2 linked regions of the Homo sapiens genome follow. The protein of the gene in region 2 interacts with the protein of the main gene of each other region in a biochemical or structural test. Each region holds a gene or a part of one and is shown on either strand. Other genes may lie near its edges. The genes, in order: TXNDC5 and EDEM3.

Region 1 (15,683 bases), on a different chromosome or scaffold from region 2:
CATCAATCTCAGAAGGTGACCTTATTTAGAATAAGGTCTTTACAGAGATATTCAAGTTAAAATGAGGTCACTAGGATGGGCCCCAATCTAGCATGACTGGTGTCCTTGTAAGAAGGGTTTGGACACAGAGAGACACACACACACAGAGAGAGAAGGGCATGTGAGGACAGAGGACGGCAGTGATGCATCTACAAGCCAAGGAACGCCAAAGATGACCAGGAAACCAACAGGAGCCAGGACGAGGCAAGGGAGGATTCCCCTACAGGTTTCAGAGGGAGCATGACCCTGCTGGCTCCTTGATTTAGGACCTCTGGCCTCCAGGACTGCAGAGAATACATTTCTATTGTTTCTGGCCACCCGGTTTGTGGAACTTTGTTACAGCAGCCTAGGAAACTAACACAGGTAGTTCCCCCCGTCAGTCCTGCCCTGCTGTAATGATTCATGACTGGCCCAACAGGAAGACCTCAAAACATTTTCCTGAGCACAGCCAGCCATCTCTAGGGAGCGTGGGAGCCCAAACTCCCTGCCCCTCCAATCCTTTACTCCAGTTACACTTGCCAGGAAAGAATAACGTGAAAGCTCATGTCCTGACACATGCCTGGACTCAGGCAGGTACAGTCGTCACCTGCCTCGGGCCTCACAACCACTCTATGGGATGGGCACTTGTCTTAGAGGAGTCAAAGCTCGCTCAAGTCAATCTACAGATGCCCCAGTGCGACCACATTGCACACAGCACATTCCACCTCCTGCATTCTCGGGGGGAAAATAATCTGTTCTTGGAGCTTCTGCAGGGCAGTGATGGTCACAGAGGTTCCTTCCCAAACTGTGTTCAGTGTGGTGTACGTTCATTTTTGTTCTTTTTAATAACACAAAACCAGCCATGGTTTACTTGGGGAGACCAGCTCTTCTCATTAAAAATCTAAACACATGATCCAACATGGGCCTTTTTAAATTTGTGACTTTTTACATTTGTGACTTTTTAAATTTGTGATGGTTTTTGGTGAATACCAACTATGGAGTAGCTGATATTGCAGCTGACAGCTGTTATGGCCAGGCTGAGGTGGAAGCCTTCACTTCCTTCTCTGAAGCCCCATAACACATACCACTCTCAGCTCCATTACAGGTCCTGTGTCACCTTCCCTGTGGCATGGTGTGTGATGCACATAGTCTCAGGCCACAGATGGTCAGCAGGTTAAGAGGAAAGACACCACAGCCAGCTCACCCCTGCTGCCCCTGAACTTTGAAAGCAACAGTTTCTCAACAGGTAAGCATTCACCTCCTCGCCCTCATCTCTGCTCACTACCTGCTTCTTTGGGATGCTCTTGATCCATACTTTCAATGCAATACTATAAAGCATAGAATAGTTAATGCTTTTACGTAGATACAGATAGTAAGCAATTTTATCTCCATTGATCTGATTTAAAGTAAACCCAAATTATGGCACTTACATTAGCAAGCAGTCACCAAAGACCAAGAATTCCAGGGTCCTTTGTGGAAACGCCCACATTTCCAAATGGTAGGGAAAACCCTAACATGTATTGGGTGTGCTCAGATTGGTGTCTGCACACATTCCATGTAAGTCCTGTAACAATGTTTGGGGGATCACCTTACTTACAGGTTAAGTGATGAGGTCAGAGCTGGGTGGTAAGTAAATGGTAGAGCTGGGATTTGACTACGACTTCTAGGTTCAAGCCTGGAGATCCCTCCACTTTTCTGCCTCCCAGGTTTGAATATAAGCTCCAATTTTTTGCTTTATTGATGGACCCCTATATTATTCAATTAAGCAATAAATTGTATAGAATTGACTTCATTCCTCAATTGAAACAAACAGCAAGGAAGTGACCGTGGCAATCCCTCCACCTCCTTCAGAAACAGCTTCTTCTCTTTTTTGAAGAACTGCTTTTCCCTCCAACACTTGGCACATGGTGTGAATGGGCATGTGTCTTGCTATAAGCTCCTGTTTCCCTGGCCACAGTGACTATTCCTGGAACGAACATTCCAGCCAAGCAGGGCCAGTCAGTGGTGGGCCCTTCTGTGCAAACAGAGATACAGGCCTGGAAAGCCGTCATCTCAAGGGAGGTGCAGGAGAAACAGACCCCAGGCCCCTGGAGCTGGCTCTCAGAGGTTCCTCCACAGCCTTTTAAATAGTCCTTTCTTTCTGTTTAATAAGAGAACAATTCTATTTCTAGAATTGAGAACATTTCAATTTCTATTTCTTATAACCAAAAAAATTCTTAACTGTCAAGGAAGTAAGTATCATCGTCTGTCAGACTCTATACTTTCTTTCCAACAGGAACAGCCCTGTGGGAGTCACACGGGAAGGAACTATAGGAAGGGTGTTTGCGAATAAGTCACCAGCAAAAGCAAGCCAAAACTGATGACAGTCCATGCACACTGTGTAAAATGTACCGGTGAACATCTAGCATGGCGGGACCGTCATTTTTCTCTTGCAAACACATTCTCTTATAAACAGGAAAACCCAACACTGATGAATTAAAGGTTATCCAAGTATAAAAGCCATCTAAAACAGACACAGCATTAAATGCAGTTTCTCCCTAATGACAGGGACTGCCTGCTTAAATTTAGTATCTCTTCACACCTTTACCAAAAGTTTAACTAGGACTTTCTTTGTAGCCAGGAGCCACCTAGGAAGTGTGCCCCCTTCCTTCCAACTTACGTGGGGTATCCTCGCACCCCCTGGGCGGAGCACACGTCGGAGTGGGCCGTGCAGTCCACTTTAGCCACATAGACTTTGGCATCTTCCATGCTGTTGTATTTGTCTCCCAGGTCATTCCAAGTCGGCTGCAGCCGCTGGCAGTGTCCACACCTGGAACAAGGCAAGAGTACAAGCACATTGAGTATCAGGTCACAGGGCAGCTGGCCCACAACTTCAGCTCTGTCCAGGGGACAATGGGGCTCTCAGTCCTTTCTTTACACCATTGCAGATGGCAGCTCCTGGACCAGTACTCCAGGACCTCTCTCCCCTGCTCCCATCCCTCCAGAGTCACTGCCCTGTTCTCAGCATGAAATCTTGGCCTTGTTCCAGTATTAAACTTAGCAAAGTGTTGTTCTGGATCCTAGTTGTTCTGGCCCTGCTGACCTCCCGCTTGACTTCTATCCCAGAGTCCACCCTCCTTCCCTTGTGGCCTACTCCTGAGCCCTACTGCAGCATCTGCAGTGTTCCCAAAGGACTATAGCTTGGCTTGGCCCTGGGACACATTCTCTCTGACACTTCGTCCCTAAACTCCACCTAGCTAAATCTATCTGCCCTTCAGGTTTAGTTTGGGTGTCACTTCCTCTAGCAAGTTGGCCCTGACTCCCCGGGCTGTTCAGCACCCATTCTCTTCTCCTGCCCTTCTGGAAAGCCTCTCTACTCCTCCCTTGGACAGTAGCTTAGCACTTCCTGCTGTATCTGCTACTTTTATTCGTCAAGTCTCCTCCACTATATAACCAAATGGCTACAAACATAAGGCAATCTCAAAATTTAATCACCTGCAATTTTCTCCAATGAGAAGGGGAAAAAAAAAGTTTGTGGCCACCTATACTTCTAGGGTTGAAGTAAGCAAATGTCTATTCTTAGTATTCATTGTATGAATTCAGTTATGTATAAATATTTTAAAATCACCCATCATTTAAAATAGTATCTTAACTAGGCTTCTTGCCATGCTTCACATTTCATGAGGATATCAGCATCTTTCCCAACACTAGACCTTAAGTCATACAGCTGACCACAGCTCTTGCTGTGTTCTCTGGACAGTATGTCTACAGTGCCATACTCGAATTTTGAATGAGACAACCCTAGAAACTTTATCCCAGGTTTCAACTACAATCCCATAGCATTATGACACATGGGTTTGTTTGCTATTTAATATGGCAGGAACACACTGATGCCTACAATGTAACCACTTTGCTGTATCGCTTTTTAAAATGCTTTTTTTTTAAACACACTTGCTTATATGAACACTCAACGCTTAGAATTGTGACTTCTTCCTCAAAATAATTTAATAATCTGTTAAATCTCCTTTTATTTTCTGACAGATTACCTCAAAAATAAGCATTTAAGTCGGTAGCAGTGGCTCATGCCTGTAATCCCAGCACTTTGGGAGGCCAAGGCAGGAGAGCTGCTTGAGCCCAGGGGTTCAAGACTGGCCTGGGCAACACAGTGAGACCCCCATCTACAAAAAATTTTAAAAAATTAGCCTGGTGTGGTGGCACACACCTGCAGTCCTAGCTACCTGGGAGGCTGAGGCAGAGGGATCACTTGAGGCCAGAAGTTTGAGGCTGCAGCGAGCTATGATCACACCACTGCACTCCAGCCTGGGTGACAGAGATTTTGTCTCTTAAGAAAAAAAGGATTTAAGCCGGGTGTGGTGGCTCACACCTATAATCCCAGCACTTTGGGAAGCCGAAGCAAGCGGATCACAAGGTCAGGAGTTCGAGACCAGCCTGACCAACAAGGTGAAGCCCCATCTCTACTAAAAATACAAAAATTAGCTGGGCATGGTGGCACACGCCTGTAATCTCAGCTACTCAGGAGGCTGAGGCAGGAGAATCGCTTGAACCCGGGAGGCGGAGGTTGCAGTGAGCCGAGACCATGCTATTGCACTCCAGCCTGGGCGATAGAGCAAGACTCCATCTCAAAAAAAAAAAAAAAAAAAAAAGAAAAACAGACTTAAAGGTAGCACTGAAAAAGTCTGCTTCAAGTTAATGTGTCTTCCCTAAACAGCACTTTCTTGGCCAGCTAAGAGAATCCCTGCTTTATGAGATACTCAGATACAAAAAAAAAAGCACAATGAAACTATACATGCAGATTTAACTTCTGTAGATTCAACAAAGTGAGTTTATGTGGCGGGGGAGAAGGAAACAAGAAAAAAAAAAAGGCAATTCCCACAGAACCCTGAAGTGTGTGCAAGCTGGGAGATGTGAGGTTTTTGTTCCTCAGCAGGCCTTGGTTCCTACATGCTTCTCATGGCATGAGCATCTCTCCGACTACATTAAGTGTGACCCTGCTGTCTAAAGGCACAGGTTTGAGAACTAGTCCATTTGGTGTTTAACCAAAGAAGCCATGATAGTTCTAATGCTGGAGGAAACGCTGGCAGTGGGGACTGACTGACTGACTGGGGCGGTGTCCAACAAGGCACCTTCCTAAGGGACTGTCAAGGGCAGTTCTGACCTTCAGGGGACTTTGATCAGATATGCTCATTCTGGAACTTTAGAACTCCTCTGCAATCTTGACAAGGTTTTGTTTTGCTACTGCTTTTTTTTTCCCTTTTTTTTTTTTGAGAAAACACAAGATTAGATTAAGAATGAGAATAAACAATAAATAAGTTTGTGGTGCGCTAAATCAAAACTGACCATTCTGGGCCATCACCAAGTTGGGCGTGCCCTTGCTCCTGGCTGTGATGGGGCCACAGGTGCTATCTAGTCGGCCCTGCGGCTACAGCACCCAACTCTGAGACAGGCAGCTGCACTCAGAAGGTAGCCTGTGGCCAAGAAGTAGAGCAAAGCTACCTGGTCCAAATCTTGACCTCACTGTCACCAGGTTCAGGGTGACTCACAAACTGGCCATACAGAAGTTGTGACCTGATGTTGGCAAAAAATCTACAGCAGCAGGATAACCCTGCAGAAGCCAAGTGCAGGGCAAAAATACACAGATTGATGTTTTTGTTACAGGGGCCCCAGCCCCTTAATCACACGTGGGCTTTCACCACTCCACGGCAGCTGAAACTGGAAAAAGGTATGTGTGTGTTGAGGGGGAGTCCACTGAGTCTTCTATCTGAGCTCCAAACGCTCAGCTCACCACTCCAGGACCTCCTTCCCTCTCCTGCATAGACCCCTCCAGAGTCACCACCTTGCTCTCAGCCTTACAACTTACCAAAGTGTTGTGCCAGGTATTGTTGGTCCTACTTGATCTTGCCCCTGCTGACCTCCCATTTGACTCGCCGCCCACTCAGCCTCCTTTCCTGGCAGCCTATTCGTGAGCCCTACTGCAGTATCTGCAGTTTTCTGAAAGGGCCCTCTTAAAAGTCCAACTTAAACACCATCATAGAAACCCACATATCTCTGTTTAAGTATTTGTAGTAGACTATCAAGAAGTCAACAAATATGCCAGGTGCGGTGGCTTACGCCTGTAATCCCAGCACTTTGGGAGGAAGAGGCGGGCAGAACACGAGGTCAAGAGATCGAGACAATCCTGGCCAACATGGTGAAACCCCATCTCTACTAAAAATACAAAAATTAGCTGGGCGTGGTGGCACGCACCTGTAGTCCCAGCTTCTCAGGAGGCTGAGGCAGGAGAATCGCTTAAACCCAGGAGGTGGAGGTTGCAGTAAATCAAGATTGCGCTACTGCACTCCAGCCTGGCAACAGAGCAAGACTCCATCTCAAAAAAAAAAAAAAAAAAAAAAAGTAACAACATAAAGCTAATTATTCTGGAAGCATCCAGCTAAATGTCTACAAGCCACATATAATGGAAAAGGAATTTACTTAATACCAAGTGCCCAGATGTGCCAGTTTTCTCTCACTCAGCCCAGGACTAGCTGGTATTTATTGCAAAGATTCTAAACTTAAAATTCCTTTGGCACTGTGGGGACTTATTACATCTGCATGTCAGTTTTTCTTTAAAAAAAAAAAAAAAGTAAAGAATGGGATGCGATGGCTCATGCCTGTAATCTCAGTACTTTGGGAGGCCAGGGCAGAAGTACTGATTGAGGCCAGGAGTTTGAGACCAGCCCCGGCAACATAGCGAGACCCTGTTTCTACCAACTACAACAAAAACAACAACAACAAAATAAGCTGGGTGTGATGACCTGCGCCTGTAGTCACAGCTACTTCAGAGGCTGAGGCAGGAGAATCACTTGAGCCCAGGAGTTAGAGGCTACAGTGAGCTGCGGCTGCGTACCACTGGTTTCAGGCTGGGTAACAGAGCAAGATCCCATCTCTAAAATAAATAAATAATGAAGAAAGAAAAAAGAAAACCCATCGACAGATGTATTCCACTGAAATAGGCTCCAATTAAGTAGTACACTTAATTGAAATAGTTGCTGAGAATACTCCCGAACAAAGAGAAACTGTTAATACTGCCTGATTGTTTTATGTTACAAAGTAATTTCTAAACCATTGGAGTTGTAAAAATTCGAGTCAGTTGGTTCTTAGGAATGTGAAACATAATGTACTTCATATACACATTGTTAATAAACCCACAGTGGCCCTAAAAGTTGATTTAACTCCAAATGAACTGAAACGCAGTAATAGCCTGAATACAAGGTTAAGAGAAAAACGTTTCTCCCAGTTTGAAAGGTACAATTTCTGAACTGGCCATTTTTCTTAGGGTACCTTTTCTCTATGCCTCCCTACATCCCTTTCCCAAGTGAGCCTCTACTGAGCTCTGGGGAAGAATACCAAGTTCTGCAACAAGAACCTGCAGGCTATTCCAACCTCTCAAAGGTCTTGTGTCCTAAAATTATGGCTTTCTGCTCTGGCCTGTGGTCACTTCCCTTCCTCGGGGCATCCCGGCACTGGCAGGAAAGCTGTGCACATGCTTGTGTGAATGACAGGAAGCTCTTCCGTGGGATGAGTGCCAGGGTAGGGTCTCTCAGGTCAGCAGCGAGGCCCACACCAAAGCCTCGCCCAGAGAACCAAAGCAAGAGGGACCATCTGCTCAACGGAGGGGCTTTTCCGATCTCACACATAACAAGTGACCTGGACCCGAGAGAGCAGCAGGGAGGTGACAGGACAGCCTGGAGTTGAGGACCAGTGGGCTCCGTTCAGAGATTACATCCACCCTGAGCTGCAGGGGGGCGGAGGGGTTCCAGAATTCGCACTACCTTGGTCTTCCCGGGGTAGCTCAGCAACCCTCCTCTGCCCGGACCACTCCTTCCTATCCCACAAAAGACGCACAAAGTGGGAAACCACACCTTCCTGGGTTCTATTTTTCAGTTAAAGCCTCTGGAAGGGGACGTGCCCGCAGTCTGTCCCAGCCGACCCCGGTGGCCGCGGCAGCAGCAAGGCCGCTCTGGTGAGTGCACGTGGCCCACGGGCAGGCCGCGCGTCCGGCCGGCACAGGAAGTTTGGGGCGCTGGGCAGGGACCGCGGGGTGACATTTGGACTCCCGGCTGCCCGAAAGGGCGACGACCCCACCTTCCCCTCCCTCGGTGCCGAGGTGCAAGAGGCGGTTGAATTCAGGAGCGCGGCGCAGGGCGGGCTTTTCCCGGCTGTCCCCTAGGGGTCCGCCCCCTCCTCCCGCACCGCCCCGGCCGCCGAGCGCCACGTCAGCCGCCAGTGCCCGGCCCGCTGAGCTCACGCCTCCCGACCCGGAGCCCCAAGCCCTCGGTCCCCTGCAGTCCCCGGCTCCCGGCCCCGAGCCGCGGCGCCCGCGCCCCCCGCTCCCCGCCAGCCGGAGCCCCGAACCCGCAGGGTCCCCGCGCTCCCGGCCCCGCGCCCCCAGTATTACACCCCGCACCCCTGAGCCCCGAGCCCCGCGCCCGTAGCACGCACGCCGCAGACCAGAGCCGTCGGCGTCCACGTGGCCCCGGGACCCCCCGCCCGCGGCGCCCAAGCGCCCCACGCCCCGCGAAGCGCCAAGTGCGGGGCAGGGCGCCGGCCTGCGCGGCGTTACCAGGGCGCGAAGAACATGACGAAGTGCGCGGCGCTCTGGATCCCGTGCGTGAACATGTCGGCCGTGTACAGGTGCTTGCTGTGCGGGTCCTGTCCGTCCTCGCCGTCTGCCGCGGGGGGCCCGTCCGCCGCCGCCGCCGCCGCCTCCTGGGCCCGGGCGCCCCAGCGCCCGCCGCCGCCATGGCCCAGCAGCAGCAGCAGCAGCGCAGTCAGGGCCGCCGGCCGGGCCAGCAGCGGGAGGAGGCGTCCTGGGCGCGCGGGCATCGCGGCGGGGCTGGGCGCGCTCTCGCCGCGGCCTCCGGTCCCCTCGCAGCGCCCGCCCCGCGCCCCGCCCCGGAGAGGCCGCGCCCCTTCCTCTCCCCGCCCGCCCGCGCCGGCGCGCGACCGCTACCCGCCCGAGCCCCGGCTCCGCGCACCGGCAGGGAAGGGCTGGAGCGAGGGACCGAGTCTGGGAGAGCCTTCCGAGTCCGGCCTCCTGCCTTCCCGCCATGGGACGGCTCGCCCCAATCCCGCGAGGCTCCTGCGCCTCCGCAACCCAGGCCCGCACCCCTTTCCCCAGGGGCCCGCTCTGCTCAGAGCGGCGGTGAACACACGAAGTAACGATGAGGCCAGCGGGAAGCCACGGAGGGGCAGGTCAGCCTCGGCTAATCTCAGCTCACACAAGCACCCCGCGATTTCAGGCCAAAGGAAGGAGAGAGCTGCTGTCAGCAGAATATAGGAAATCGGGCAAAAGACGGTGGGGTTTGCACCTGAATTAGTTAGATTCTTGGCCAGAGCTCAACTGTGATTCTCGACCTGGGCTCAGAGGGGTGATGAAACCCGCTTCCCAAGTGAACCCCTTGCTGGTTACCCCTGCCCGGCCTCAACTCAGGGATGAAGAGGAAAGAAAGTCAAAGCGGCCTCTTCTAGACAAGAAGGCACCTAGCAGGACTGACTGGGGTCCTACTGTGCCCTCATTTATGCCGGTTACTAAAATGAATGACAGCACGCCTGCTATGGCTGAACTCAGCCTGTGGAATGGCCCGAAGGCATCCCTGCCCAGCGACTCATAACTCGCACCTGCACACACACCTTACAGCAGATGGTAATCGAAAGCTCCAGCCCTACCCCGGGGATCTGAAGCTAAATTAGAATCACCGGGTTGCTCTCCGGGATCCTGCCTGCTCTTTGATTATCCTCAATCCAGGAAGCCCCAGGTAGTTAACTCCTGGCTTGGCAACAGGGGACGCGCCCACTGTCTCACCTGTCATTATTCTGCTCCCGCCTTAGGCCCAGCCACTTATGAACCTTTAACCATGGGTTGCCAAACACCAAAACCATCAATCTCCCTCCAAAGTCTGTTCTTCCAGCCACTTAAGCTTGAAACATGGGAGGCATCTTGTATTGCTCGCTCTTTTCCCGTGTGTCTCAAAATTCAACCGCATTTCCTGTAACCATGATTTCCTTCCAGCATTCTCAGTGTTCATACCCTGAACGGAGACTAAGCCTGGCCTATTGCAGTAGCTTTCTAAGAGTCTCTTTCATTCACATGGCTGGAAAATTAATTTTCCTAAAGCCTGCCTTTGACCAAGACAGTTTGCTGCTTAAACTTGGACCAAAACGCCACCACTGTCCCCATGGCCTTGGCCGATGGGGTGAAATAGTCATGCCTGGGGCAGCCATTCAAGGCCTTCCGTGATGTGGTTGCATCATGCTTTGTGTCCCTGTGAAACTCACTCAACACTAGAAATCCAGGGATTCTCTCCAATAACTGTTATTGCCAAACTCTAATCCCTGTGTTCTCCAACACCTCAAACCTCCCAAACCCTTCCACGGTGCTGTTGGGAAATTCCCACAAGCATCGCCATACACTCTTACAGCATCAGTGTCTTTCGTTTTTAACTGAAACACAGTTCTAGGAGCTCTCTCAAGTGTTGGCTGCTCATTCTTTCACACCTGGAGTCCCTCAGAGCCAGGAAGTAAAGCTGATGCCTTCCTGGTTCCCCATTGCTCCTTCCAAATCCTACAAAACCTTCAGTACTCCTTAAATTGATGCCACTGGGCATGGCACCCTCTTCCCTGCCAGTTCCTGTCATTCTTCCACATCACTCTTCCTGGTTCAGTGAAGACTTTGGTTCCTGGCTCACAGTGTTCCTGGCCACCCCTTTCCTGTCTTTCATTCCTGGCATCTTCAGCATCCAGGTGGATGCTCCATCTACCTTTCCCTCAGTAACTCACACCCAAAAGGGAGACCCTAGCACTTGTCATCACCAGCATCTGCACCATCTCCAAAATCTGAAGGCATCCACTCTGCCCAGCACCTCCTCGACTGTTTGCTCAAGAAACCCATTTCTGCAATGCTTCTTTCTCATCATGACCTCTGAGCTACCCACCCCACCATCTTCTACAATCCCCTCGCAGCCCAACAGACTGCTATGTCTTCTCTTGCCTCTTGGCCAAGTTACAGCCCATGGAGTCTCACCCTTCACTTCCTGCCCTGCCACATTCTCCCCACAGATGCTGGTGAGCTTTGTCTCTCTGGGTTCCCTGTGCCTTCAACCAGGTAGCCAGACTCTGCTGGAGAAAAATCGCACAGTCAAGCCGCATGTCTCCTTCACACTGGTAAAAATAAGCCTTAAATTCCTCCTCACCCCTGCCCTAAAACTGACTACCTCTGCCTAGGCAGTGTGCTGCCCCACTCTCTGAGATGCTTCCATACTTCCACTGACACTGCTCCTCCTCTCCTCTCCCCACCCCACCCTGTCAGTCGCCATCCTCTCAGCTGCCAGCTTTATCTCATGTTTCTGAGAAAAATGAAGCCAAAAGCATGAGCTCCCTTATCCCTCCCCCGCCAAATCTACACACCCCTGCACAGGCGCCTTTCCCTCTGCCCACAAAGGAGCAAGTCAGTATATCCCTGCCTAGCAAAGCCCAGTCCTCCAGAATAATGCCCCTCACGGATAACCAGGTCCTAATTCCTGAAACATCTGATTGTTTCTTTATATGGCAGAAGGCTTTGCAGGTGTGATTAAATTAAGGGTCGTGAGCTGGAGAGATTACCCTGGATTATCTCGGTGGGTCCTAAATGTGATCACAAGTGTCCTCATAACAGAGGGGCAGTAGGAAATTTGACTACACAGCCGGAGGCGACGTAACAAAAGCAGAAAGAGATTTGAAGATGTTAAACTGCTGGTTTGGAAGATGAAGGGGCCAAGAGCCAGGAAAAGCAGCTCTAGATGCTGGAAAAAGCAAGGAAATAGACTCCCCCTCAGAGCCTCTGGAGGGACCTGCAGTCCTGTGGACAATTTATAGTCCAGTGCAACTGGTTTTGGACTTCTGACCTCCAAAACTGTAAGAGAATAAACGTACGTGGTTTTATGCCACCAAGAGTGTGGTGTTACAGCAGCCCTAGGAATCTCATATGCCCTCCCTGCTCCCTGCTCAAAGGCTTTGTTCTTCAGCTCCTCTCTTTCTCTCCTGCACAAGTTACTCATCACTCCTTCCTACTGGACCATTTTCATCAGTGTATAAGCAAAAAAAAAAAAAAAATTATCTGTATTTCACTTTCCATTCATCCTTCAGCTCATGCCACTCTGACTCTCAAACCTGCCACACACCAAGTCTTCTCAAAGTCACTGAAGATGTCCACATTGACAAGTCAAATGAACACTTTATGTTCCTCATCTTCCTGGGCTTCTCAGCAGCGTTGGTACAACTGCCATTGGCCCCATCTGCATCCACCGTCCTTTCTGCTTCTCTGATCTACCTCCTACCATCCCCACGTCACTCCTCAGTCTCTTCAACCCAACCTTTGATGTCAGTTTTCAGCGCTCAGCCTCCAACCCACTTTTGTTTCTCTGCATCACTCCCTAGGTGATCTCATCCATAGCCATGGCTTTAACACCATCTATATGCTGCTGCCAAAGTGTACATTTGCAGCCGAGGCCTCTCTCTGAGCTCTCACTATCTACAGGATGCCTCCTCTTGTTTGTCCTGCAGGTGTGCTGAAGCTGACCTTGTGCTTCCCTGCAGCAATCTGCTTGTCCTCCGATTTCCCCTCCTCAGTAAATAGTTCTTCCTCGCTGTTGCACAAACCAGAAACCTGAGTTGCAAACTTTGTCTCAGACTCCTGGCCTCAAGTGATCTGCCTGCCTCAGGCTCCCAGAGTGCTGGGATTACAGGTGTGAGCCACCACCCCCGACCTCTGAGTTGTAAACTTTGTTACCCTTTTTCTTTATTGCAGTGCCTTGATCCCCGCCTCCTACTCGATCTCCCCATCAGCAAGTCCAATCATTGCCATCTCTGAGCCACAGCTCCCACTGACTGATATCTCTCCACTGCTGCCATATCCTTCTCTTCCTGTCTGCTACAGTAGCCTCCTGAATGTTGTTTCCACTCTTAAGTCCTTCCCATCCATCCTTCATCCAGCAGCTAGAATTGAATCGTGTCACTCCTTTGCTTAACTTCCTTCAGGGGCTTCCCTTCACATACAGTCAAATTCCAGCTCTTTGCCTTGGCTTGCAAGGGCCTTCAGGAAAGATGCAATCTCAACCCATACCACTCTGCCCTCTGCTCGCCTAGATTCTAGCCATTAGGGATGATTCTAGATACCCTCCCAGCATTCCCCTTCTCAGGCCCTTGTGTGTGGTGCCCTGTGCTTGTTCCCTTCCTGTCTTCTGTGACTGGACTCCCTGCACCCTCAGGTCTCTTGCCCCCACGCCACCTCCTCAGTGCCTGGCGATTGCCTTTCCACATTGACAAGTCAAAGCCCCTCTCTGCAGCAGCCTCCCTCTGCCCACTGAGCTCTCACCAGTGCCATGCTGTTTAATTTCTGCATAACACTTTTTGTCATTTGATGCCATTTTGTTGCAGACTTAGCTGGTTAAGGTGGCCGTCTTCTCCATCAATAAGCTCCCCGAAGGCCAGGGGCTATTTGCCACATTCACTTCTCTCTCCCTAGCACCCAAATGCCTGGATACAGTTGAGGCTCAACAAGTGTTGGATGAAGGAACCCCTCTTTCTAACCACATCTCTTTCCCAGGCTCCACCAAAACAAACTGACTCACTGTGCCTGGCACCTTCTCTCACATGCGGCCTTTCCTGCATGACCCGGCCACCCCTCCACACAGGCTGCTCAGCGTCACTTCCTCTGAACTCCCAGCCCTCCCAAGGGACTGACATGTTGCTTCATATGGTAGCAGCCACACATGGTCCTGCTTAGATTCCCATCGCCAAGCAGCGTGGCTTCCAGCTCAGAAAGCCTAAAAGTGAAGATACAACTGAATTTGTGTACAGCGATGAAATAATACAATGTTCTCAGTAAAAAATTCCCTGACCTCCAGCTGGGGTTAGGCTTCCTGCACTAATATCTTGTCCTTTCTCCCCATATCCCTTCACAGAAGGGTAATTATTTGGTTGTGTGAATTTTGTTTAGCCTCGGACTTTCCCTCTAAACTGTAAGCCCCATGGCCTGAGAGGTGTTTACGTGATGTCTGGTACACAGCAGGCATTTAATACCTGATATGGTTTGGCTGTGTCCCCACCCAAATTTCATCTTGAATTGTAACTCCCACAATTCCCATGTGTTGTGGGAGGAACCCGGTGGGAGGTGATTGAATCATGGGGACAAGGTCTTTCCTGCACTGTTCTCATGATAGTGAATGAGTCTCATGAGATCTGATGGTTTTAAAAAGGGGAGACTTCCTTCATAAGCTCTCTTCTCTTGTCTGCTGCCATGTGAGACGTGCCTTTCACCTGCCATGATTGGGATGCCTCCCCGGCCACTTGGAATTATAAGTCCAGTAAACCTCTTTCTTTTGGAAATTGCCCAATCTCAGGTATGTCTTTATCAGCAGCGCAAAAACAGACTAATACGATACCTGTTTGTTGAATGAATGCATGAAGGAATGGATGAAAAGTCACATTTGTCTACCCTCAGAGGATGGCTTGCTTGAGAGAGACCCCCCTCAAAATCATGGCCTTTCCCAAGCAGAAAAGGCAATAGGTATGTTGGTCTGTATTGTTAGAAGTTAGTACTACTTCTAGCAAAATAGTATTGCTACACTGCCTTCTTTTTTTGAGACAGATTCTTACTCTGTCACCCAGGCTGGAGTGCAATGGCATGCTCTTGGCTCACTGCAACCTCTGCCTCCTGGGTTCAAGCAATTCTCCTGCCTTAGCCTCCTGAGTAGTTGGGACTACAGGCACCTGCCACCACACCCGGCTAATTTTTGTATTTTTAGTAGAGACGGGGTTTCACTATGTTGGCCAGGCTGGTCTCAATCTCCTAACCTCGTGATCCACTCACCTCGGCCTCCCAAAGTGCTGGGATTACAGGCGTGAGCCACCACGCCCGGTCTACGCTGCCTTCTTATTGCAAATCCACAGCCTTCAAGGAGCTGCACTCCCTTCCGACAGCAGCCCTGTAGGTGCATGGCAAAGCCTCTCGTTGGAAGCTGTCCTCATCCCAGGGAGCACATAAGAACTGACATGGGAGGAATGGCTACTGAATGGGAAAAATACAGCTTTTGTTTTCCACCTCCAGAGGATAACACAAGACCCAAATGTGTTGTAACATTGTCAAGACAACCCCAGGACATTCAGAAACTGAAATGCCACCATTTGAACCACTTTAACAGGTGCATCCTGAGTTATTATTGGGCGAACAGTACTGCTTTTAGGAGGTACTGAAAGCATTTACATCCTGTTGTTCTAATTTGGTCAGAACACCTTGGTAGGTGCCTCTAAAGAAGAAGAAAAACTGTGTTTTTCTTGATGAGCTCATGTGACCATTCAAATGTGATTGTTGAGAGGTGGAGAAAAAGCTAGAGGATTGCTCTCATCAGAGAAAATCTAAAGAAAAAGACCAAAGTGAATTCCCAGGCTGGAGTCACACAGGGAGTAGAGCTGTTTTCAGTGTATTGAAATGGTTAATGGAAAGGTCATATTTACTCACTACTCTCACAAGCTCCTTGGGCAACACAGCCTACTAAACAATTAATAAGCACCAAAAACCCACATTACATTATAACATAACAGATTCGGGTATTTGGCAGATAAAAGCTTTCAAAATCCATGTGGGATCTGTG
Region 2 (14,990 bases):
TTCTTGAGGAGGAGATGCGATTATAGGTGTGCACCACTATGCCCCACCTCGTGTGTATTTTTCATGTTCTCTTCTTTCGCTGACCTAAACTACTTATTTTTAAAAGCATAATGCTTATTTTGGAAACTTATGAAAATACTGACATATACAAATAAGGAAATAGCAATTGCCTACAATCCAAGATAACCACTGTTAGTATTTTGGCTATTTAACTCACTCCATGATTTCCACCACTCTCTATCCCCTCACCATAATTTTTTCTTCATAAACTCATTGTCCTTTTTACTTACTACTTTATTTTCTATCTTCTTTACCACATTTTGTCCATCTGTCCACTACAACCCCAGGTCCTATAATAGTGCCTGGCATACAGAAGGCATGCACGCCCTTAATCTTTGTTGAATAAATGAGTCAATGTCATTATATATATGTGTGTGTATATATATATAATGTGTATGTATATATGTGTATGGAGAGAGTGAGCAAGCGCTGGATCATAATTTATACACAATTCTAGAGTTTTATTCACTTAGCATTACCTTTGTGCATGCTACTGACTTGTTGAAAAACTTTCAGTGATTTCTTAGAACAAAATCCTTACTTTAGCCCACAAGCTTGGGTTTCTACAGCCTAAAATGTCCCCAGAATTCAATCCCCGGAGGATAAAATGAGTTTAAAAAAAAAAGGAAAACAGAGTGATAAACATCAAGACATAAAAGTATGAGGATATGCACAGTGATTCTAAAAATTCAAATTAAAACTAAACTGGAATATTTACATATTTTATTAAATCTTTACAATCAGTAATTATAATCAAATACATAATTATATACAGGATTATATACATTTTGCCCAGACTTTTACATCACAGTACATAGTTTCCCTTAGAAATATTGTATACATTTATCACCAAACAATAAAATCCAACAACAGTAGTGTTACAGCACCTGTTAGTACAGACATCTTTTTCATAAATTACATCATAAGAAAATATACGGCTGTAAATTGGGCTTTTAAAAATGTCTTTTATAAAATCTGAACATACAATATTTCATTCACAGAATGTTTTTTTTTTCTATGTTCTGACTGAAGCCTTGTGCATAAAACGACCGGCTGGAATATTTACTAAATTCTACCCCCCTCTAAAATTATAAGCAGTATTTGAATTACTTATGCTGAGCTTTCTTCATGATGAATTTGGCATGGGGTTTGGTGAGAGAACAAATGTTGGCTTTACTATAAAAAAGGTTGTGTGATGGTAATTTAAATTTTAAAAGCTTCTTGAGAGAGTAATTACATTAGTGAAGTTAAAATCAGAAAGTGTACAATTTTTCTTTTTACTAATACTGTAAAGAAAAAGGGAGACGTATAATGCCAAGAGTTAATTTGTTCTGAAACAATTATACTCTTTTTGGAAGCCTATTGCAATTTAAGAAGAAAAAAGAAAACTTGCCTAACAAAATATCCCATACCAAACATATCTAGTAAATTACAATTCTTTCACACTTAAAACTTTATGGGAAAAGTATTGCAAATAAGGGCATATCATTTCAATGAACTTTTATATGCAGAAAAAAACTAGCTATTTTATTTTTAGTAGGTAAACAGGTTAAGTTTTAAAACTTGAAAATACCTGAATTAAATACTTGCTCTAATATCTCTTAAAGGATTTCAGCTAAAATCCTTGATTCCAGATTTGTAAACATTATATAAATCTTTCTTAAACAATTTTATGGCTGTGGTGATCACTTCAGCTATATTTCTAAGCAGTCAACATTTAACTGAGGTAGACCAGATGTTTCTAAATTCGGGGTTTCATAGAATCCCCTGAATCTTTAGCAAGTTACTAAAATGTCTATAAAAGTTAACTAAAAAACAAAACACTAAAAAAAAAAAAAACAACTAATGCCTTTGGAATTTTTAATGAACTCAAAAACTACTTTGTGGCAGTATGTCAAGTAAGTAAATGAATGTAGAGTTGTAATTACAACGTTGGAGTTTTTTAGACGAACATTATCTCCTCTTTTCTTAACTAGGGAAATATTGAGTATAATTCCTTCTGGGTATTAAGAAAAATTGGTTAAATTTTTTCCTTTTCTTTTTTTAAGGATTTACTTTTCTTAACAAGTGAACAATTTGCTTCTAAGCGTCAATGAAAGGCAACACCTCCCTCTAATGGCCAAAGGAAGAGAGTGGCAGTAAGCTGGCTTTTCCAATGTGTCACACAATCCTTCATGCCATTAAGTTCTCCTTGTTGGAAAAGAAATTAGGTTGTTTTGATAACTTAGAAAAGTTAGTTTTAGACAACAGTGACTTTCAGCTACAAATACAAAATCAAATCCATGTATATAAGGCTTCTGTAATCGATGTCTTAGAGGAACATCTGCTCATTTTCTCCAAGCCCCAGTCCTATAAATCAAGGCAAGTCAAGTAATTAAGCTTCAACTATTTTGGCAGCTTTGCAATTAAAATGAACAAAGCACTATATCTATCCTTCCATATACTGTATATATTATAGTTCTATCTTGTTACACCAAATCTCACATGCAGAGAGACTAAAAATATCCATTTTGGTTTCAGGTATAATTAAAAGCCAATAAGGGTCTTGCATACTATTCTTTTTCCCCTCCCCAAAGTGAATTCTCCATCAGATTTACTACTCCCTGACTCAATTATATTTACCTGGAATATCTGAATGCAGGTATTTATCCTCTCAGAAAAGAATATGTTTACCTGGGATCTAAACATACTGTACACGAATATACATAACTGCAATACAGCACTGCTGTTTTTAACAGCTCCACTTACACCTCATCAGTACCTCACAACCGTGTTTTAGGAAAAAGTTTTGTGTAATGTTATGGTAAAGAGAAGAAAATTATGTCTCTTAAATATTCCTTTAGAACAAATTCAGGCAAGTTTAAAAAATAAATAAAATGAATAAAGCCATGATTTCAACAACAGGGCTGTCTACAAACATCAACAACAAAATTTAAAAATTTTTAAGACTTAAATGTGGCCAGCACCAGACTACTACAACAACAACAAACCAAAAAAAAAAAGGGGGGGGGTGGAAGTCTCATTAAGCTATATAGCTATATGTAGTTGTATTGTACTTTTTTTTTTAAACACAGGTCACCATACACTAATTTTCAAGTCCGTATCAGAAGGAATATCTGTTAAAAACAAAAACAAAAACCATGATTCAACAGAAAATGTGACAGATTCCTTAGGTGCAACTTTAGAAACCTAAGTTTCAAAGGAGAAAAACAGTAGTTACTCCAGGAATTTTAACTCACTAACCACAGTTCTATCATGGCTCTGTAAGACAGAAAAATGGAACAAAATGTATATAGCTGTTGGCGATACGAGCCTTGTGGCTCAAATTGCATACCAAACATGGGATGGAGTAAGGCTGATGGCTAGAGGTAATCACCTCTAAGAGAAATGAACTGGAAATGATTTATAATCTACCCTACAAGGATATAATGCTAGGTTCCATTTCAGAGTAGTCACAGCTTTCCCTATGGAAGGCCCAATGGGAGGTTCATATTGCAACATTACAGTTTCTCCCTTACTCCATTTTTCAGAAGTATTAAGTAAGCAATCTCCACAATGTATTATATGACCTTTTTACCTGGTCCCACTGATTAGTCTTTATGCAGAGAACTCACTGAGAAAGTACACTGGCTTCACCTTTGGTTTAAATAAAAAAGACATTGTTAAGAAGGAAAAAAAATCAAGTCATCTTGATCATTTGTCACTAAATGAAACAAGAGAAAGCAATGAGCAAAGACTGTTTTCACCATAAATGCATTTGCTTCATAACCACTTAGGTCACTTAGAGTGTTTTGTGAAGGCAGCATAATCAGAATGCCACAATACTCGGATGCATCTTCCCAAAAGAGCCTCTAACCCCCAAAACCAAGAAAGGCGAGCTTCCTTTAATTAGAAGGCTATCCAAACTCCTATTCCCCACTCCACTACTAAATGAATTTTGTTTCTTGTCTATCCAGAGACAACAGAAATCTGGTTCGCAGGAATGCTCAGTAATCTTTCCCTGGCCTGAGGTGTTGCAGGGTGGTGCAGTGCTGCATTTGAAGGGGGAACTGTGGATTTCCATTTTTGATGGGACAGTTTTAAACAAGGTCAATTCTAACACAGCATGCTCCAGATTCCTACGATAACTACGCCAGTCAGAACGTGGTTGTTCATCACCATACTTAAAGCCTCCCATTAGAAAGCCTGCTTAGTATTAGGATGTCTATTAACCACACACAGTTTACCTTTTCTTTTTAAATACCTACCAACAGATTGTTTAGCAAGTCATAGCTCATCCTTCTCCATCATTTCAAATGCTTCTATATCTTCATTCCAGTCTGCTAATATGGAGTCTATAGGCTGGACCTTTTTACCCCAGCTAACATTAGGATTGGAATCTTCCTCAGTTTCTGATTGTTCTTGAAGCTGGTTATCTAAATCTGTACATTCACCATTAAGATTTGTAGTCTCATGGTTTTCTGTGGGATTAGAAGTCTGTTCAGAAGGGGAAATGCTTGCAGCATTGTCCATATCTGCTAGAGATAATGATTCTGGGTGAGAATTTAGAGAATTTTCCTCAGAAGACTCTTGATCAACCAAATCAACCTCCTGAGAACTTGATGAAATCTGTTCACCACTCTGATTCTGAGAATCATTTTCAGAGGATGGTTGTTCTTCATTTTCCATTTCAGGATCTGTATGAGAAAGAAACAAACCTCATGCTACTTCTCTAAAAAAATGTACTATTACACTTTCCAAAGCATATTGGTTTTTGCAACAAGATGAAATAAAACGTGAAAGAGACTCATGTTAATGCAGAAAGGTGAGCATCAGCACTGAAATGAAGACTGTCTTTATGCAGTCACATTTTCCTATAGATTCACTGTGCAAAATGTGTCAGTGTTAGAAAATAAACGTTCTTCCAAATTGGAAGGAATGACAATAACTAAGACTGACATCAGTGGACATTAGTAAGCCAAGAAGTACGCTAACCAATAATAATATTAAAATATATAGAGATTTGCAATGTATGGCTAAAATGTATTAGATACCTAAAGCTTATGCATAAGAACATATTAAACAGAATCAATTTTAAACAGCATATATCATTGCTATATTTTCAAATAATATTCCTTTGAAAAGTGAAATTCCTACTCAGTAAGTCATAAAGAAGCAGATAACATAGATTTTTTTGAATGACTAAGGGTATTAATGTGACTGATCAGAAATACTTTCACAAGACAAGAACTGAGATTATTCATAAAATTCTATTATTTTAGGCCTATGAATTATAAGATATAGTCATTTTAAAATCCACTGGAAGGCTGAAGAGTGAGTTAAACCTCTTATAATGAATATACAGTGAAACCAGTAGAGGCATTTTATTTAGGGTTCCTACAAGAAAGTGCTTAAATAGCATCGACGCCTACATGCTACATCCTGTTCAGTCTCTGCCTCTGTGATGCAGTTGGCCAGCAAATATCCTCCAAGTCATCATTTGCATAGTGCTAGGGATAAAATGAGGAGCAATACCAAATGCTATACCTGCCCTTATGGGTCTTATAGTCCAACGGGAGAAAAAGATATTATACAAATAATCACGGAAAATAAATAGAAAACTCAACTGTGACACGTTATGAAAGAGAGATAAGGATTTTGGATGCTCAAGTCCCTTATGTAAAATGACACAGTATTTGCATATAACTGACACACATCCTCCCATGTACTTTAAATCATCTCTTGATTACTTTATAATACCTAATACAACGTAAATGTTATGCAAATCATTGGTATACTGTATTGTTTGGAGAATAATGACAAGAAAAAAAATCTCTGTATGTTCAATACAGATGCTTTTTTCTTCTTGAATATTTCCTATCCACAGTTGGTTGAATCCATGGGTGCAGAACCCACAGATACAGAGGGAGAACTGTAAGGAGATTTGAGAAGTTTCTTCAAAAAGTTCCTTCAGAAAGTGACACTTGAGCTGGGGTTTAAAGTATAAGATAATGTCAAAGAAGGGAGGGAAGAGGATTTATTTAAAAACCAGAAAAAACAAAGGAAATGTAGACATGCAGGAAGGTGTGGTGGGTATTGCTGGGGCACAGAAAACAATTCCCCAAAATATGGTGCTTCAGCATGATGAATGCTTGGAAAACTGAAAGGTCTCAGAAATAAGCCTCAGAACCAGTCTGTCTCTGACCTTCCCCTGCCTCCCTGTCTCTCTGATCCTCTTTCCTGAAGCAACTGGGGGGATTCTCTCTGGAATTTTCTTATCTAAGGAAGCTTCTTTCCAAATGAAATGCAATTGTCTCAAGAATCCCTCCCTAGGACTCTCATCAAATAACGAGAAAAAAAATGAGCCATCAGAGAAGAGTAGAGACAGGGGTCCTCACCACACCCAAACAGACTTTTCTTCTGTTCTTCTGAGGACAGCTGAGAGATTAACTGGGGGACTTTATCTAGATACTATGCAAAGAGAATCCTTTACCAATCATTGTCTAAGCACTGGACCTCTTCATTCCCTAGTATTCCTCTACCCTAAGAAGAGGGTATTTAAGCTTCAACCACCTGTCCCCTTTCATATTTTGTATGGCTCCTGTGCACACACGTACACATAATAAAATTATTATGCTTTTCTGTTGTTAACCTGTTTTTGTTTTTTTTTAACCCGGGGTGTCCGCTGTAACCCTTTATGATGGGGAGGAAAGGATCACCCCTTTCTGCCCCTACAATGCATATATGTTCACCCTGATTAGATGGGATTACTTGACTCTGAAAGTTTACATTCTTAGGGTTTTTTTTCCGGAGGGGAGGATCAGCAGGGGGTGGATTGAGGAATTCCACACAATCTCTGTCTTCTAAGCTGTGAAAAAGGTACAATTTAATTAGGCAATTAGGGAAACCAATGGTGCAGACCAAAGAAAGAAGGTAGCTGGCTACTTACAGCTTATTTATCCTAGGTTCCCTAAATTCAAGAGAGAACAAAAAGAAAAATCTCCAAGTTTCTTTCTAGATTGTATTATTCCAGATTAGAAGGAGAGGAAAAGGTGTAGGGTTGTTTTACCTGGTAATGAAGATTGTGCTTGTGATAAAAAACTCTCCTAGGGTTACATATACGATATTATTTTGGAAATCTAGCTGATGTAATCGGACAAGAAAGTAGAATAATCAATGTAAATATAGAAAAAGATCAAATTATTTGTATTTTCAGATTGTGATCGTACACTGTCAAAGCAACTTTAATAAAAAAATACTATTAGAATTGATAAAAAAAATTTGGTAAGAAGACTATGCAAATACCAATAACTCCTTTGTAGTAACAATAAATAGTTAAAATATAATCATTAAACCTTTTCATAATAAAAAGCTACAAAACATAGAATTAAATTTATTATAAAAGGTATAAGACCCACGTTGCTTAAATAAAATCATAATGAGAACATAAAACAAGATTTGATTAAATTTATAGGTATATTCTTAAATGAAGTCTTAATATTTAACATTTTCCTAATTTATATGTAAAGTATGCAATTATATAATTTCAAAATGAATCTCATTTGTACTTCTTGTTTTCGTTTTAGAACCAGATACAATTAATTTAAAGTTTCTATGGAACAGCATATGTCAAAGAGAAGCCAAGAAATTCTAAGAATCAGTGAGGGGAGAGTTGCCCTATCAGATAATAAAATATACTCAAAACAGCAAACTTTTATTATTGGCAAAGGAATAAACACATTAGTAGAAGAGAAGGGTAAGTCTAGAAGCAGATCCAACTATGCAAGAATATTTGATATATAGCAAAGATGGTAGTTTAACTGAAGGAGAAATGAGTGGTTTGCTTCATAAATGGTATTTAGTAACTGACAACTCAATTGGAAAGACTCCTAACTTTTATTTTAAAATTCCATATGATTTAGAGACCAAAATGTAAAAAATGGTAAAAATGCCAGAAGAATTTAGGAAAATATTATGTAAAAACAGGATGGAGTGATCTTCTGAAGTGAGACAGAAGACCCAGGAGCCTCAAAGGAATTAATATTTCTGATTACCTAAAAATGTTATGAAAGTTACATAAACAAAGTGAAAAGATGACATGTTGGGAAAATTGTGTGTGTGTGTGTGTAACCTCTGTCCCTATATGTGTGTCTTTTCTAGATAATTTATAGAACCTCTATTTCTTTATGAGTATGTATGTAAATATAGGAAATGCGCACACACACAAACAGAGAGGTCCTATAAAATATCTAGAAAAGACACAGAATCTTATTTAAAGAAGGCAAAATGCAAAACATATGACTAGGCAATCCATAAAGAGAAAAAACAAAAAATATACCTATAAAGGGAAATATGCTGACTAAAATAGGAAGAAACATGTACTCTCATATCTTGCTGGAAAGGATGTGAATTGCTACAACCTTTTTTGGAATGCAACTTGCAACATCCATTAAAATGAAAACGACCCATATACTTTCTGCCAGCATTTCATTTTAGTAAATCTCAATATTCTAGAAAAAGTATGCATATCTAAGAAGATATGTACGAGAATGTTACCTACACCATTGTATACAGTGGCAAAACAAAAACCTGGAAATAATTTGGACGCCTAATAGTGACATGGTTAAATAAATTATGGTACAGTGATAATGCAAAACATAATGCAGCTTTCAAAAGAATAAGTTATGCTATCCTACTAACTTGGAGGAATGTCTTTAATATAGCTTTAACTGTAAAAGGCAAGTTACTGAATGATACATATATTTAGAAATGTATAAAGCACTAAGAAGAATATAAAAGATTACACATCAAACTGCTAACATTGGTTGGTTATCTCAGAAAGATGAGAGATTATTTAAAAGTTTTTAATACACTTCTGGATTGTTTAATTTGTTACAAGTTTAATTTTATAAAGTTTTTAAAAAGATACCAATAACTATTCTATGCAGCACTATAGGAAAGTCACCAGGGGCCAACTAAATTTAAATGTAGAGAAGCAGAGAGAGAGACAGAGACAGAGAGAGAGAGACAGAGAGAAGAACTTTGAAGAAGATGCCCATGGAAGAAAATATTTTGGTTTTCGCAAGCTGAAGGAGCTATAGAACCAGAAATAAAAGCAACAATCAGGAAAGTAAAAATGGCAGTTAGAGAACTACAAAAAGATAGAAGAGTTAAAGTCTGCCACATTGCTACAAATCTTGATCCTAAGGTGCCTGTTTTCACCAGTATGTGAGATCAAAGTCGTAAGAGCATAACAACCACAATATTAAATTCAGGAATGGTACATCAGAAACACAGAAAGAATGGAGAAAATCTCAAAATACAGAGAAACAAAATCAGTATGTTTTAATAATAAAAGAGGAAGTGAACCTTGGCAAAGACTTAGAGATTGGATGTTTTAGAACCATTCATTCATTCATTCATTCATTCATCTGTACATTAAATGTTTACTGAAAGCAAGGAATATAGAGATGAGAAGCAGGTAAAGAACTATTTAACTATCATAGTAGAACTGTATTAAAAGGACACCCTTAAATTTTACCTAGGAGGTGGCATTTGAAATTTAGGATATCTAAATGTTCTCAAAGAGGAAAAGGGCCATGGGAGAGGAAAAGGGATTGATAGGGAACTTCCAGAAAAAGGGAAGAGATGGCGCAAATGTGAAAATGCATGAGAAAACATGTCTTGGATGGAGAAGGGAAGGTTAAGTATCAATTCTGCTAAGAAGAATGTTTCAGATGTTTCTCTCCAGGTAGAGTTCATCTGCATATGTACTAGATTTTTCTCCTAGGAATCAAATCCTTTCCAACAGCAACTTAAGGTGTGCAGTTCAGCTGTAGAACAGATTCACACCAATCAAATTCAGTGGGGGATAATCAGGAAAAGTGACCCTGCCTGACTTAAATCAGAGCATTGCAAATGATGGAACCTTTTTTTTTCTTTCCTCCATTTTCTCTGTCTGGCTCTTTACCAGATAGAGACAAATACAGTTGCTTGAAAGCATTTGTCTAGAGCCCTTAAGGCACTATAGGCTTACACTCTAAGCTGCAAGCATGACAATGAATTGGAACTTAAAAATGCTGATGTTTTTTTCCCTGTGACAAATACTATTGAAAAAAGGAAATTTACTCTTAATTGTAAACTGCTTCAATTTGGACCTAAAGGTAACAAAACATTGCCTTTTGTTTGTGGGCACACGGTTGGAATAATTAAGTACCTTTACAAACTGAAATTTTGGAAAAATGAAACACTGAGAGATATGATATTGAAAATTCTGTTCAACAATAGACTGTGGATAGCTTAACTTTCAGAAGTGTCACAGGTTTGACCTAAGGAAGCAACATCACTTGATAAAATGCTAATGCTTTTTGGCTTCTAAATGTGTATTAAGATGACCAGAAAATTTCTGCTAGCAGAACAGTTTCAGATACATCTATACTAATGGCATGGACTTATCAGAAGAAGAAGACAGGAGTGAAGGCTTTTTAAGGGCTTCTATTTTCTGTATTAAATATGAAAAGGACTTCTTAATCAGCATTGTGTGACTTCATATGGAAAAATACGTATTTGTGGAATGACATTTCTAGAAAAGGCAATCTGGAGAACATTTTATTGTTCAGATTTTAAGGATGTTGTTACTTAGTGTACTTATATAATCTGTTAACTAGTACCTGTAATGGTACAATATGGCCTGATACATAGCTGGGAGACAAAAAAGGGGTGCTTTCTGAATCTTGTTCAATATTTCTCAAAGTGTAGCTGAGGAAGCAGCTACAACACAATCACCCGGGATGTTTGTTTGAAGTTTCAGATTCTGATTCCCAATCATAAAGTCTGAATCAGAAAGTCTGATTGAATATTTGGAGCAGGACTCAGAAGCCAACACTTCTAACAAGTGTATCTGTTGATTCTGATGCAGGGGAGAAACACTGATGTATGTAGTAATGGTATAGGACAAATGATAACCGCTACAGACTGTGTAGCTTCTTAGGATATCCTAAGTGAATACATTTGTTGATTTCATAACACTATTACCATTGATTTCTGTTACATTAATAAATATTAACAATTAGACTGTATCTTGTTGCTAATTAATATAGCTGTACAGTTCTATAAAGAGCTATTACACAAAAAGGGGGCTTTTCAATACTTTTATCAAAAGATCACTCTATAACAATCACAGTTCAATAAATTTATAGACTAAAGTTTTCAAAAAATATCTTTTAAATAATGCCCTTTTAATGCAAGGTCCTTAAGGGGATACTGTTCACCAAGAATTCTTATTTTCTGGTAGAATTAATCATGTCTCATAACCTTTCTCTGGTACAGGAAGCACATGCTGTACCATAATCCTGTAGTCCTAACCCATGTACCATACACACACATGAGCTTTTAAAACAAGTCAATACTTTAAATATTTTACATTGTGTTCAAATAAAATGTGATCAAAGTAATAAATACTAAAACAACAATGCCTTTGTTAGAGTGACTCTTGTATGGACATAGACATAGAATTCATCTATTGTATGGGATGTATAATTATTAGAATTTAAAATTATTATGTGACTGCTGACTAGACATGAAAATAATCTAATTACGTTACACAAGATATTATCATGGTATCCACTGAAACAAAATTATATATGTACTTGAGTGTGTGTACACACACCCAAATACATATATACGTATATAATTTAAGGCTTGTTAATGCAAGATACTTACTACTATTAATAATGTAGCTTGGAATCATTTTACCTTTTAATATTGCTGCTGAAATTCCAGTGGTAGCACAAAATAGGGGGAAAAAAAGCAAATGCATTAAAGAGTTACAAGAAATAATAATTTGCCTATGTTAGATGTGCCTAAATGCATATATGTAGGCAAGAAGATCTGAGTTTAGAAAAGGGCCCAGGAAAAAAAAATCAGGTATACAGAGGATTTAAGACTAGAAAACCTTTGTATTCTGTTCTGTTTCCATCTATACATTGTTATATACAAACAACCTACTTGCTCACTCCATTGCTCATAAATAATTGACATTTCAAAGAATCTCAAAGAAGAATAAAGCAATACAAGAAGACAAAATTAGGCTAGCATGATTATGCTAGCATGATTATCACCGAACATTTTTTTTTAAATGTCCCACTTGGAAGTCACATTGAATTGAATCAGTTTCCTACATATCTGTCAAACACCCCAGGGGATGTAACAACCCTGTACTATTATGCAACTTCATCTATTTAAGGGTATGGGAGAACTTTAGCTCTCTCTTCAGGTCTCTCCAGCAGACAGGAAAGACTGCTACCACAAGCAAGATCTGAAGGCTCACATTCCCTCATTTCTCCTCTATCCCTGGGTGTGAAACTATGTAAGAATACTAGTAAGGCCTTGCATTTATATTGTAATTTGGGTTTCAAAGACATTTCAAATTACTAACAAACATTTTGGCCTACAGAGGACTATCTACTCTCATAAATTAAGACATGCTATCTTGTTTTTCAGAAACAGCCATTTGTAACTCTTATATCCATGTGATAAACTTAGATCTCATTGGGAAGAAGCTGCTAGATTTCTATTGCCTTCACCAAGACAGCAGTCATTTGATTATAGGTGGCCTGTTGAGACTAACTACTATGATATTGTATACAACATTCTATATATGTCTTCTCATTCCTTATAAAAGACATGTAAGATGTAGTATCAGTGAAATCAAATTGTGAACATTTCCGGATGTTAAAATGGCTTTCCTGAAGCAGTCTCTTGTATTTTTATCACCTGAACAGACTCAGGGCAAAAATTACAAATCACACATAAAAACATATGTCTAAAAACATCCTAACTCAGAAAACAAAGCAAAATAAATGTTTTATTATTCTTATTTCCAAAAGAAAAATATATTTTGAAATCATCTTCTAAAAGTTTTACTTGTTTTCACAGTGAACCCCCCAAAACAATTTTTTGTGACTCATTCTTGTTATCAAACTAGCAAAATTAATATTACGCTGCATAAAAAAACAAATGGTATTTTACTCTTACCTCGATCTTTTGCTTTATCAGAGAGGAGCACTTCTACCTCCTCATATTCCCGGATGGCATCCAGTATGATACTTCCTTCTTTGCTGAATAAGAACAGCATGGGGATCTTGATGTCATCTGTATCCTTTCCATCACCTGCCATCTGGAACAGAGGGGCAGTATCACTGCTGCTCCCCTCATTGTCATCTAGCCAGAAAATAAATACAGCAAACATCAAAATATCCAGCCATTAAAAAGATCTATCTACTAATTGTTACTGATTTTTTACAATGACAGAATTAATTTTATGCATCAAGAACCATAAAAACCAACATAATTTTTGGACCCATTAATTCTCATAGAAACGTATCCAAAGGAAATAATTCAAAAGTAGCGAAAAGCCCTATGCCCAAATAATTTTACTAGACTATTTATAATTGTAAACAACTGTACACCATTATAAGTAAATTATAATGACCTACTTGATAGGACACACAGAATAATAATACATTTAAAAAGTAGAATACAGAATTCTATGATTATGACTATAAAAATTTCATATGCTTATGGAAAAGCCTAGAAAGGAAAAAATCAATGACTCGGATTACAGTGATAGAACTATGAATGAATTTTATTGTTGAAAATTTCCACTACTGGCATGATTACATTGTTTTACCAAACTAAAAATGGACATTTCTTTTTTATATAATGCACACAAAGAATAGTTATGACTATAGTGCTTCTTCCTCTATAAGCTAAACTAAACAGTATTGCTATTTTGCATTGGTTAAATAATAGTAGTAGAACTATTAATAGTAGTAGTACCAGCAACATGCTGTTTTACTGAAGACGACAATCACGACCACCTCCAAATCGCATGCCAGTCTCCCAGAAGAAACTATCTGTCCTGTCTCAGGGTGCTCACTCTCATAGGACCTGCTAAGTGCAGAATGCATGACCCATCCTCTTGGTAATAATTGATTAGACAAAAGATGGCTACCTGACCCTGAGTCTCTCTGGGGGACCTGGAACTGGCACACAGAAAGACTGTTTCAGTTAGCAGGGGGTAATAGTCCAGTTGAATGACACAGACTTAGGGGCTGAGGCTGCAAACTAGAATGGCCATTTTGGAACTGAGGAACAAAGAGAGAGAAGGCTGGTGAGAAGCTGGAAAATGAAGCAGAATTGCAAAGAGAAGCAGGGAAGAAAAGTTCAGAAGGACCCAGAGGTAGAGATACAGAGAGAAAAGTGAAAAACATTCACTATCATGGATCCTGGTGATTTTTAGTTCCCACTTCTACCTCCTGGTGAATCCTAGTTGTATTTGTACTGTTTAATTCACTAAAAATAATCCATTTCTGTGTAGTGAAAAAACCTCCCTTCTTAAACCAACGTAATTATCTCCTGCAGCCACATGATTTCTAAGATAATTCGTATTTCTAACCCTTGCAACAAAAAACAGCTAATTCCTAATTTATTCATTTATATACAATTAAAACAAAAACAAAATGCTTTGTCAGAAACAAAAAACTCAGGAGAAAGAAGTCAACACAAGAAAGTTTCTCATTAAAAATTAAATTTTTGGCTGGGTGCGGTGGCTCATGGCTGTAATCCCAGCACTTTTGGAGGCCAAGGCAGACCACTTGAGGCCATGAGTTTGAGACCAACTTGGCCAACACAGCGAAACCCCTTCTCTACTAAAAATACAAAAATTAGCCAGGCTTGGTGGCACGTGCCTGTAATCCCAGCTACTCAGGAGGCTGAGGCATAAGACCTACTTAAACCTAGAGGTGGAGGTTGTAGTGAGCCAAGATCATGCCACTGCACTCTAGCCTGGGTGACAAAGCAAGACTCTGTCTCAAAAAAAAAAAAAAAAAAAAAAAAAAAAAAATTTCTGAGAGTAAGGATCATCATCTCTTATTTATTTATCCACAGAA

What was found.
Region 1: the proteins of EDEM3 (region 2) and TXNDC5 form a complex in vitro, tested with the Homo sapiens proteins (one study listed by BioGRID).

Annotation. Positions count from the first base shown.
Region 1 is NC_000006.12:7,901,897-7,917,579, forward strand, and holds the start of TXNDC5 (thioredoxin domain-containing protein 5 isoform 1 precursor), read right to left. Parts: upstream 8,893-15,683; 5' UTR 8,881-8,892; coding exon 8,618-8,880; intron 8,182-8,617; exon of another isoform or gene 7,917-8,181; intron 2,828-7,916; coding exon 2,678-2,827; intron 1-2,677. UniProt on the Homo sapiens protein: Protein disulfide isomerase of the endoplasmic reticulum lumen involved in the formation of disulfide bonds in proteins. Can reduce insulin disulfide bonds.
Region 2 is NC_000001.11:184,689,737-184,704,726, forward strand, and holds the end of EDEM3 (ER degradation-enhancing alpha-mannosidase-like protein 3 isoform 2 precursor), read right to left. Parts: intron 13,261-14,990; coding exon 13,075-13,260; intron 11,809-13,074; coding exon of another isoform or gene 11,761-11,808; intron 4,737-11,760; coding exon 4,327-4,736; 3' UTR 501-4,326; downstream 1-500. UniProt on the Homo sapiens protein: Involved in endoplasmic reticulum-associated degradation (ERAD). Accelerates the glycoprotein ERAD by proteasomes, by catalyzing mannose trimming from Man8GlcNAc2 to Man7GlcNAc2 in the N-glycans.